Linked DNA regions of Homo sapiens. The protein of the gene in region 2 interacts with the protein of the main gene of each other region in a pairwise test. Each region holds a gene or a part of one and is shown on either strand. Other genes may lie near its edges.

Region 1 (3,759 bases), on a different chromosome or scaffold from region 2:
GCAACAGGTGGGGCATGTAACAGTAAATAAGGGTTTAGCACACTTTTTTGTAATGTTTTTAGAATTATCTTAAAATATTGACTCTTCTAGAATTAATAATTTAATTATTAATAAATATTTATTTAATAGTAAAACAGGCTTTAATAAGTATTTATTTAAGCATTTAATACTCTAAAACAGGCTTTAAGAGACTTCAAAACCTGACAATATGCTTGATGTTTATTTTCCATTTGATTCAAAGATTACAAAGTTTTCTTGTCAAGATGAGTAAGCTCAAGAGTTATGAAAGCTCAAGGGATGGTGAGAGTAAATGACAGAGTATCTGACAACAAGTATGTGTGAGTATCTTCACAGACGTTGGCCGTACCCAGGCTTAGAAGAGAAAGGAAGATTGGATTAGAAAAATAAGAGAAGTAAAGGAGGATGGACTGGCTGAGGAGGGGAGGGGGCACAGGAATAAATGTGGTCTATTTGAAGAAAGCTGGGGAATTGGGTTTTGGAAAAGAGAGTGGGTGTAGGTAATCATCTGAGATAAGAGAAAGGGTGTATGGCCAGGCGCGGTGGCCAGAACTTTTGGAGGCCAAGGAGGGTGGGTCACCTGAGGTCAGGAGTTTGAGACCAGCCTGGCCAACATGGTGAAACCCCATCTCCACTAAAAATACAAAAATTAGCTGGGTGTGGTGGGCGCCTATAATCCCAGCTACTCGGGAGGCTGAAGTGGGAAAATTGCTTGAACCTGGGAGGCGGAGGCTGCAGTGAGCCGAGATCGCTCCACCGCACTCCAGCCTAGGCAACAGAGTGAGACTCTCATCTAAAAAAAAAAAAAAAGAAAGAAAAAAGAAAAAGAGAAACGGTGTATTGAGATTCCATAAGGTAGAACCAGGTTCTGAAAGATCAGATAAGCAAAGCAGAAGAATTCTCATTATCCTGTCAGCAGCATAAAGAAAAAAACTCCCTGGTTTGATTAGCAGGGGATTGACTGACTGATGCAATAAAAACCCTCGGGGACAAAACTATAAAACTTAGAAAGCTGTGAAGAGTTCCTCCTCACTGAAGCCAAATATCAAGTATGAATTATCTGGGATTGTTCCCTGACCTCCCATCTGTGACAGATTCCATAGGCAGTTATCCCTACTCTTGGTTTTTCTTTCCACAGATACTGGAATGAACACTTCTCCAGCAAACGTTCTAGAAACTAACAAGTCAGGCATTATTTTCTACTAAGGAACAAACACAGTCTTGAGTGTTAGCTCGAAGGCTTCTTTCCTGTGAAATTGTCAATATACACTAGATTCATTAAGAAAGAAAACCCCAAACCTTAAGGAGCTAGAGGTGTTAGGCACTGTACATGGCACTGGAGATAAAACAAGATATTTATCCAACCAAGGTCAGGGCTATTAAGCATTTTCTGGGAGTCCATTAAAAATGTAAATTACGGACCCCACCGTAGATTTCTGGAATCAGAGACCCTGTGAAGAGGCTTGCGTTTTAATAAACTCAGGTGGTTCTAATGAGATTAATTGTGTGAATATGATAAGAAACTTCACAGACGCCTTCCTGATGGTGTGAGGGCGGGGCTGAGGGAGGAATTGAACAGATAAAATCTCTTCAGTCTCCACTGTTCCAGCTTTTTCCCTAAAGGAAATACCTTGGTTCGGTGTGGTGACTCATTCCTGTAATCCCAGTACTTTGGGAGGCTGAAGCAGGCAGATTGCTTGAGCCCAGGAGTTCAAGACCAGCCTGGGAAAAATACTGAAACCCCGTCTCTACAAAAAATACAAAAATTAGCCGGGTGTGGTCGTGCAGCGCCTGTAATCCCAGCTACTCAGGAGGTCAAGGTGGGAGAATCACTTGAGCCTGGGAGCTCGAGGCTGTAGTGAGCCGAGATTGCGCCACTGCATTCCAGCCTGGGTGACAGAGCAAGACCCTGTCTCAAAAAAAAAAAAAAAAAAAAAAAAGGAAATACCCAGGATTGCTACAAAGAAAGTAAGTGAGATTTTCTCTATAGATCATTTTCTTAATAATTGTTTCTTTAGATTTCTAAACTTGATCTTAGAATCTATGTGTGTGTGTGTGTATCTGTGTGTTATCAGGAAAAAGCCTGAAGAAAAATATTAGGAAAAACAAAATAAGGGTAGACAACATGCTGGGGACTTAATTCGTCAATTTTCCTTTGCTGTTTCTGTAAAAATATTTAGTCTCTGTCCCTCTCTCATTACACCTTCAATTTTTACTGGTTTAACATAAAATATCGTTTACAATATTTATTGTGCATCGAGTATGTCAGATGTAGACACAGGGCATCTCAAGGACTTAGTTTCTTATGGATGGAGAGTGACCCACAAGTAAACTTGTTCATAGAAAGATAAAATCTTTTCGCTACTAAGAAAATAAAATAAGGAGATGAGTAGTGGGAAGGTATTTCAAATTGAGTAGTGATGGAAAGGTCTCTCTTGGGAAGACATTTGAGCTGAGAACTGAAGAGAAGAAAGAAGAGGCAGCTGGAATTGCAAAAATATGAGAGAAGAGCTCTGTTGGCCACGGAAGGGGGAAGGGCTGTGATGAATTAGAGGCAGCTAGATTGACAGTGATGGGGGAAAGCTATAGAGAGATCAGAAGAAGGCAGGAGGCCAGATTGTATAGGACGGGGTTATTACCCACTTCGATCTTACTCTAATGCCATAGAAAGTGACCACAAACCTGCTCACTTGGTTTTGGTTTTAAAATAGTATTCTGGTGGTTGAGCAGAGAGGAGCTGGAGATGGACGAGGAGGGCAGGACAGAATATAAATTTGGAAAACAATAGTTGAATTGGTGAAAGGAAGGCTTAAACTGTGGCTCTAAAGGAATGAGTTTGGGGGAAGAGAGCCACTGGGTTGAGATCCTGAGCGGCTTTAGATATGTTAATTTTGAGTGCTCCTTAGACATTCTATTGCAAAAATGTTGGGAATTGGGCAGGAGATTGAAATCGGAGAATGGAACTTAAATCTTCAGAAACGAGTAAGATTACCTAGGGAGAGACCAGGACTGGGAGACCAGAACTCAACCTTGAAGCACCCCAAGATTGAGAGGTTCAGAGGATGTGGGACCAGAAAAGGCCACGGAGAACAAGACCAGACAAGTTAGAGGAATGTCAGCTGCAGACAGATGAGAGAAGAAAACATTCTAGGAAGAAGGGTGTGGTCAGCTATGTTAACTGCTGCTGAGAGCTCAAGGAAAAATTTGAGTTGGTGAATTTCTTTGTTTTGGTGACTCAGTGGAGTCATCTCGGACATGTTCAGGGACCTAAGACACGGGAAACCAGCAGGGATTTCAAAGACCTAAGCAGAAGAAAGGATGAGAGCATCAAAAACAAGGAAGGAGGGAGAAAGTATTTGCAACTCACACAATTTACAGGAACTTGGATCTATAGCTCTCTCTTAAAATTGACCCCTCCCTCCAAAAAGGCCAAACCTGATGGAATAAACTGAGAGAGAGGCTTGAACATAGACTTCACAGCAAAAGAAGTGAAAATGGTTTTTTAGCATATGAAAATAAAAGGCTTAGACATATTAATAATATAACAGATGGAAGTTGAAAATATATGAATACACTATTTCTCACCCAGCCAGTGGGCAATGATCCAAAAGTTTAACATCTTTTTAATTTGTTGCTTGGAGTGCAAAATTGTACAACTTTTGTGCTTGGGAAACTGACAAAACATATCAAAATTATGGATGCATTCATTCACAGTCCTATTTGTGGGGAATATGCCTTTTC
Region 2 (2,592 bases):
TTTATTTTCTTATCTGGCCCCACCCACATCCTGCTAATTGGTAGAGCCCAGTGGCCTGTTTTGACAGGGTGCTGATTGGTGTGTTTACAATCCCTGAGCTAGACACAAAGGTTCACCACCTCCCCATCAGATTAGTTAGATACAGAGTATCCACACAAAGGTTCTCCAAGGCCCCACCAGAGTAGCTAGATACAGAGTGTCGATTGGTGCATTCACAAACCCTGAGCTAGACACAGGGTGCTGATTGGTGTGTTTACAAACCTTGAGCTAGATACAGAGTGCCAATTGGTGTATTTACAATCCCTGAGCTAGACATAAAGGTTCCCCACGTCCCCACCAGACTCAGGAGCCCGGCTGGCTTCACCCAGTGGATCCCACACCGGGGCTGCAGGTGGAGCTGCCTGCCAGTCCCGCGCCGTACGTTTGCACTCCTCAGCCCTTGGGTGGTCGATGGGATTGGGCACCATGGAGCAGGGAGCGGCACTGGTCGGGGAGGCTCGGGCAGCACAGGAGCCCATGGAGTGGGTGGGAGGCTCAGGCATGGCAGGCTGCAGGTCCCGAGCCCTGCCCTGCGGGAAGGCAGCTAAGGCCTGGTGAGAAATTGAGTGCAGCGCTGGTGGGCTGGCACTGCTAGGGGACCCAGTACACCCTCTGCAGCTGCTGGCCTGGGTGCTAAGCCCCTCATTGCCCGGGGCCGGCAGGGCTGGCAGGGCCGGCCCGCTGGCTGCTCTGAGTGCGGGGCCCGCCAAGCCCACGCCCACCCAGAACTCCAGCTGGCCTGCAAGCGCCGCCGCACGCAGCCCCGGTTCTGCTTGCGCCTCTCCCTCCACACCTCCCTGCAAGCTGAGGGAGCGGGCTCCGGCCTTGGCCAGCCCAGAAAGGGGCTCCCACAGTGCAGCGGTGGGCTGAAGGGCTCCTCAAGTGCCGCCAAAGTGGGAGCCCAGGCAGAGGAGGTGCTGAGAGCAAGCGAGGGCTGTGAGGACTGCCAGCAGGCTGTCACTTCTCAGAAGCACCTAAATAGGAAGCCCATGGAAACAAAAGCTTTTCAACCCTGAAGCCCTTACATTCCTCTGGCACCACAGCTGCACTCAACAGACTGGCACCAGGCCCATTCGTGGGCCTCCAGGGTGCCAGGCACTGTGCTAGGGCTTAGGGTGCAGCAGTGAACAATCTGGAGTCTGTGCGAGGAGGCGGGAAACAGACCCACACTTACAGACCCTCACAGAGACACAAAGACTAGAACTGGGGACAGGGTGGTAATGCACCCGAGTCTGGGGGCCAGGGCTTCCGGGAGGAAGTAAACTTGTACTGAGACCTAAAGGATAAGTAGACAGTGGAGACCCAGGAGAGGTGGGTGGGAGAGAGGCCTAAGAAGAGTGTTCTGGGCAGAGGAGGAGCCATGAGAGGGCACCAGGGTGGGAGAAGCACAGCCCAGCAGGGCACCCGGAGGAAAGCTCGTGCCACCTGGAGCCCTGGGGGTAGGAGAAGGGCCAGCGAGGGTGGCGGGGCCAGTTGCAGGGCCGGGCAGACCAGTCTGATTCTCAGAGCAGTGGGAACCATTGGAGGTTTTTAAGTAGTCTCAATTTAAAAACAAGATCACTCTGCTGCCACGTGGAGAGCAGAATGGAGCAGGTAGGAGAGGACAGAGGGAGGCTTTCTGGCAGGGATTTGGGTGAGGGTGAGGACGGCCTCAGCAGCGGAGACGGGGAGAGTTGAACGGATCTGAGAGCTGCTTTCAAAGCAGGATGCCAGCAAGATCATCATGGACTGGAAATGGATGGCGGGGGATGCCAGCGTCAAGGCCACCCCCAGGTTGTGCAGCTGGGGACAGTGCTTGTGAGGGGTAGGACACTAGGCCTAGGGCAGCTCTCCTGTCATCCAAGACCCACTAAATTCTGGATCACATTTAAATGGTTCTTTCTCTTTGACAGCAAGCCACTAACATATGGGCTCTGCTTCTTCCATCAGCCAACAGAATCCTGGATTTGAGTCTGTCCTTTGAAAGCATCTCTGCTAGAGTTCCCACTTCCAAACCCCTTTCAGCTCTTCGGGATTCAGCCTCCAGGTGAGGTGCTGGAATTGATGCCAGAGTGAACGACTCCGGATTGCTGAGTGGAAGGAAAACGTAGGCACCGCTACTGACAGCTCTCAGGCGCTCCTGGGATTTTCCTTCCTTTGACGCTGAGGCTGTTCCGCTTTCAAGCGTTCTGCTTTGTGAGGGAAGGGCAAGGTCAGAAGGTGCTCACCCTTTCCACAGCAAGCACGCGGCACACGTGTGCCACACGCTGAACCTGCCTTGGTTGTAGCTGGCTCCTTTGTTAAGGTCAGCGCCCCCCAAGACCACGTGCTGTGCAGACAGTGTTGGGATCTCGGGAACTGTGGGGTTCCACTTAGAAACTAGTGTCTGGCCCAGCAGCCTACACAGGAGAGTTTGCGGTTACAGCACAGAGACGGTTTCGGGGACAGAAACATCCTTTCTCACTCCTGCCGGAATGCTGCTCACGGCTCCACTGAGGAAAGCCCTGCTTGATGGAAACTCAACTCTGCCATCATCTGCAGCCCAGTGCGACGGCAGTCAAAGGCCAGGGAGAG
Region 3 (3,151 bases), on a different chromosome or scaffold from region 2:
TGGGAGAATGCATATGGGGGCTAACTAGACATCTATTGTCCCATTTGGGATCAGGAAATATTTATAAATTGACTGATGGAAATTTTTAAATTTATGATGCCTTCCTATCCAAAAGCTTAATGTGTCTTTCCATGTATTCAATTCTTGTCTCATGTCCTTCATCTTAAAATTTCCTTCATCTAAGGCTTATGCATTTCTTATATAAATATATTCTTAGCCATTTTCTCTTGCTTTTTGTTGCTATTGAAAATGGGGTCTTTTCTTATACTCAGTCTTCCAATTATTGTCTGCATATATGAAGCCTGTTGATTTTGATTGTGTTAATTGTGTAAACGTTTTTCTGTTGATTCTTTTGGGTTTTCAGCTTACAATAACATCATCTGTGAATATTAAAGCTTTATTTTTTCTTTTCCAAATTGTAACCCTTCTATATTTTTCTTGCCTAACTAAATTAGCCAGCATCTCCAGTAAAATATTTTCAGTGGTATTGTGGGTATCTTTGTCTTGTTCCCAACTCTAGTGGTAATGTTAGTTTCAATTTCCTTAATCTAGGAGTCTGGGAATAGAATATTTCATGATTTTCTGATTTGCTGATATCTGAAAGTAAACACGTGCAATTCTAAAGCATGACTTTATTATAAATGTTTCGTGTGATGTAACTGTACAATTAATCATCCTGTAACAGAAAGATGAGATGAATAAACCTGATACATTTTTCTATCATCCATACTTCAAAGGACAAAAAATCATCAAGATGCACCATGCCTTGGATATCAGCTTTTATTTTGTATAACAAAAAGTAACCTTAATGAAGCAATAAATTACATGACAAAATTCAAAGATTAGATAAGGTGAGGATATTAAAAGTAAAAGTATTGAATTACATATACAAGAAGGCATTGACCAGTAAATGCATGGTTGCTTTTCTCCACAACACAGAATTCATAATATTGGAACACTTCTGAAAAACACCAATTGGATGAGGATCTTCAAGAAAGTCAGCCCAGTGTCAGGCTGTGAGTGGTTTTCCTGGGATGACTGGGGAATGGTTAGATCAGGATGATGGTGGGGTGAATAGGTTTGTTGATGCCTGTCTGAGCCTAGACTTCACAGTGAGGCTCCCCTGGCAGTGTGGGAAGCCTCGTTTGCCCCAGGCTCAGTTTCTTTGACTCCCTAACCAAGATTTCCACAGTGGCCATGAGTTCTTAGCCAGGTGAACAAGTAAGTTCCATGGCTCAAAATCTCAAAAGGACATTAAAGGAACTTTAGGAAGAGCACTAGTTAAGAGCATGCTGCCTGTCTCTGACTGTTAGGTTCACTATTACTTCACATTTTACCAGCTCTGTGCCTTAGAAAAAGGGAATTAGTCCTCTTAAGGCTCAGTTGCATCATCTACAAACACCTTCCTTATAAGGTTGATATGGGGATTATAGGATATGACTGTAAAGGGCTTAGCATGGCAAGGGCTTAGCATGGTACCAACCGTTACATGTTTCTGGGGTGGGGAAACCAGCCTTACTGCAGGGAAAGACAAGTTTCCAATAGTATATACTAATTTGGAGAAGGATCAATTCAGTTTTGAAATTTCAGAAAGTTGGCCGGGTGCGGTGGCTCACACCTGTAATCTCAGCACTTTGGGAAGCCGAGGTGGGGGTGGATCGCCTGAGGTCAGGAGTTTGAGACCCTCCTAGCCAACATGGTGAAGCCCTGTCTCTACTAAAAATACAAAAATCATCAGGGCCCGGTGGCAAATGCCTGTAACCCCAGCTACTTGGGAGGCTGAGGCAGTAGAATAGCTTGAACCTGGGAGGTAGAGGTTGCAGTGAGCCGAGATTGCGGGGCCACTGCACTCCAACTTGGGTGACAGAGAGAGACTCCATCTCAAAAAAAAAAATGAAATTTCAGAAAGTTGGATGGAACTGGGACTATTACTGATAGCATGTCCTAACTCAGGCCAGTGAAAGAAAAATGGGTGACCATTTGAAAGCCAGCATTCCAGCAAGGCAGACAGTATAATATCACACTTACATTCTCATAAAACATCCCAGTCAAATCAGATTCTAACTCATCATTTCCAGTATGTGCTTTTGCTTGTGGTCTTGGCTATCGCCAACATAAATTTCCATTGTTGTTGTTTTGATGCTTTTAAATCTAAGCCCTAACCTCTCTTGGATATTTTTATGTTCCCCTGACAAAAACTGCTGTATAGTATGATTGAGGATACACAGTCCTGTGTCTCCCAGGGTCAAAGTGGCTTAAGACAGTGGGCTTGTCCTGAGAAGGTTGTGTAGCCAGAAGAAGCACGCTGGCCCTTAGCGGACTTTCTGAATGATACTCTAAGACCAAGCAAAGACAACAGATGAGTTATGGCTTGTGGTTAAAACATGACTCACCTGCCCAAATACTTCAAAATTTGCAGCAGGGAAATGAACACACTATCTACTAGAGGTACCAAAGAACCCTTATTTCGGGTTCAAACAATTCAAGGCAGTTATTAACTTGCAGAATTTTCAAATACATCATGACCTCACAGAATTATTTCATGATGGTGTCTGAGTAATACAAAACACTTGGGCTAGTGACGGTTAAGATGTCTTGTGTCTGGGAGGCTTTTTGAAAAGACATATGTCGAAGTAGGAATTTGTTATTGGCAATGTGGCCAATCCTGACTCTTCCCAAGTTTTGCTTCACTGGAATTAACTCAAGGATTCCAAGTGCCATGTGACCAGTTCATAATTTTCTTTAGACACAATTATAAATAATTCAGGAATTTGGTTCATCATTGAAAATGAAGTCCAGGAACAAGCTAATTATACTTATTATTAAAATATGTAGAGTGTATTTTGCTCGAGATAAAGCCATAGGGAACACAATCAGCACATTCACATATTGTGCTTTTGCTTTGTTTCCTGGACCCCAGCCAATTGCTGGCTTAAGCATGGCCATCTCCTTGACTGAGGACAGAAGTGCTGCACAGCATGGAAGGCTGAGCAAAGCACCAGATGCCTTCTGGAAACGCCAGTGTGACTTCAGGAAATGACAAAAATGGTCTCATATCCGTGGATCCTAGTGAAGGCAGGAACCTCACTATCCCTAAACACATAAATGAGAACAGAAGCACAAACAGAACAACCACTGGATTAAATTTACC

The links.
Region 1: the proteins of CCDC92 (region 2) and TRIML2 interact in binary tests that used the Homo sapiens proteins (3 or more experiments, as listed by UniProt).
Region 3: the proteins of CCDC92 (region 2) and DISC1 interact in binary tests that used the Homo sapiens proteins (3 or more experiments, as listed by UniProt).

What each region holds. Positions count from the first base shown.
Region 1 is NC_000004.12:188,107,470-188,111,228, reverse strand, and holds the start of TRIML2 (probable E3 ubiquitin-protein ligase TRIML2), read left to right. Parts: upstream 1-1,625; 5' UTR 1,626-1,986; intron 1,987-3,759.
Region 2 is NC_000012.12:123,945,177-123,947,768, reverse strand, and holds part of CCDC92 (coiled-coil domain-containing protein 92), read left to right. Parts: exon of another isoform or gene 1-2,065; intron 2,066-2,592.
Region 3 is NC_000001.11:232,038,739-232,041,889, reverse strand, and holds the end of DISC1 (disrupted in schizophrenia 1 protein), read right to left. Parts: 3' UTR 618-3,151; downstream 1-617. UniProt on the Homo sapiens protein: Involved in the regulation of multiple aspects of embryonic and adult neurogenesis. Required for neural progenitor proliferation in the ventrical/subventrical zone during embryonic brain development and in the adult dentate gyrus of the hippocampus.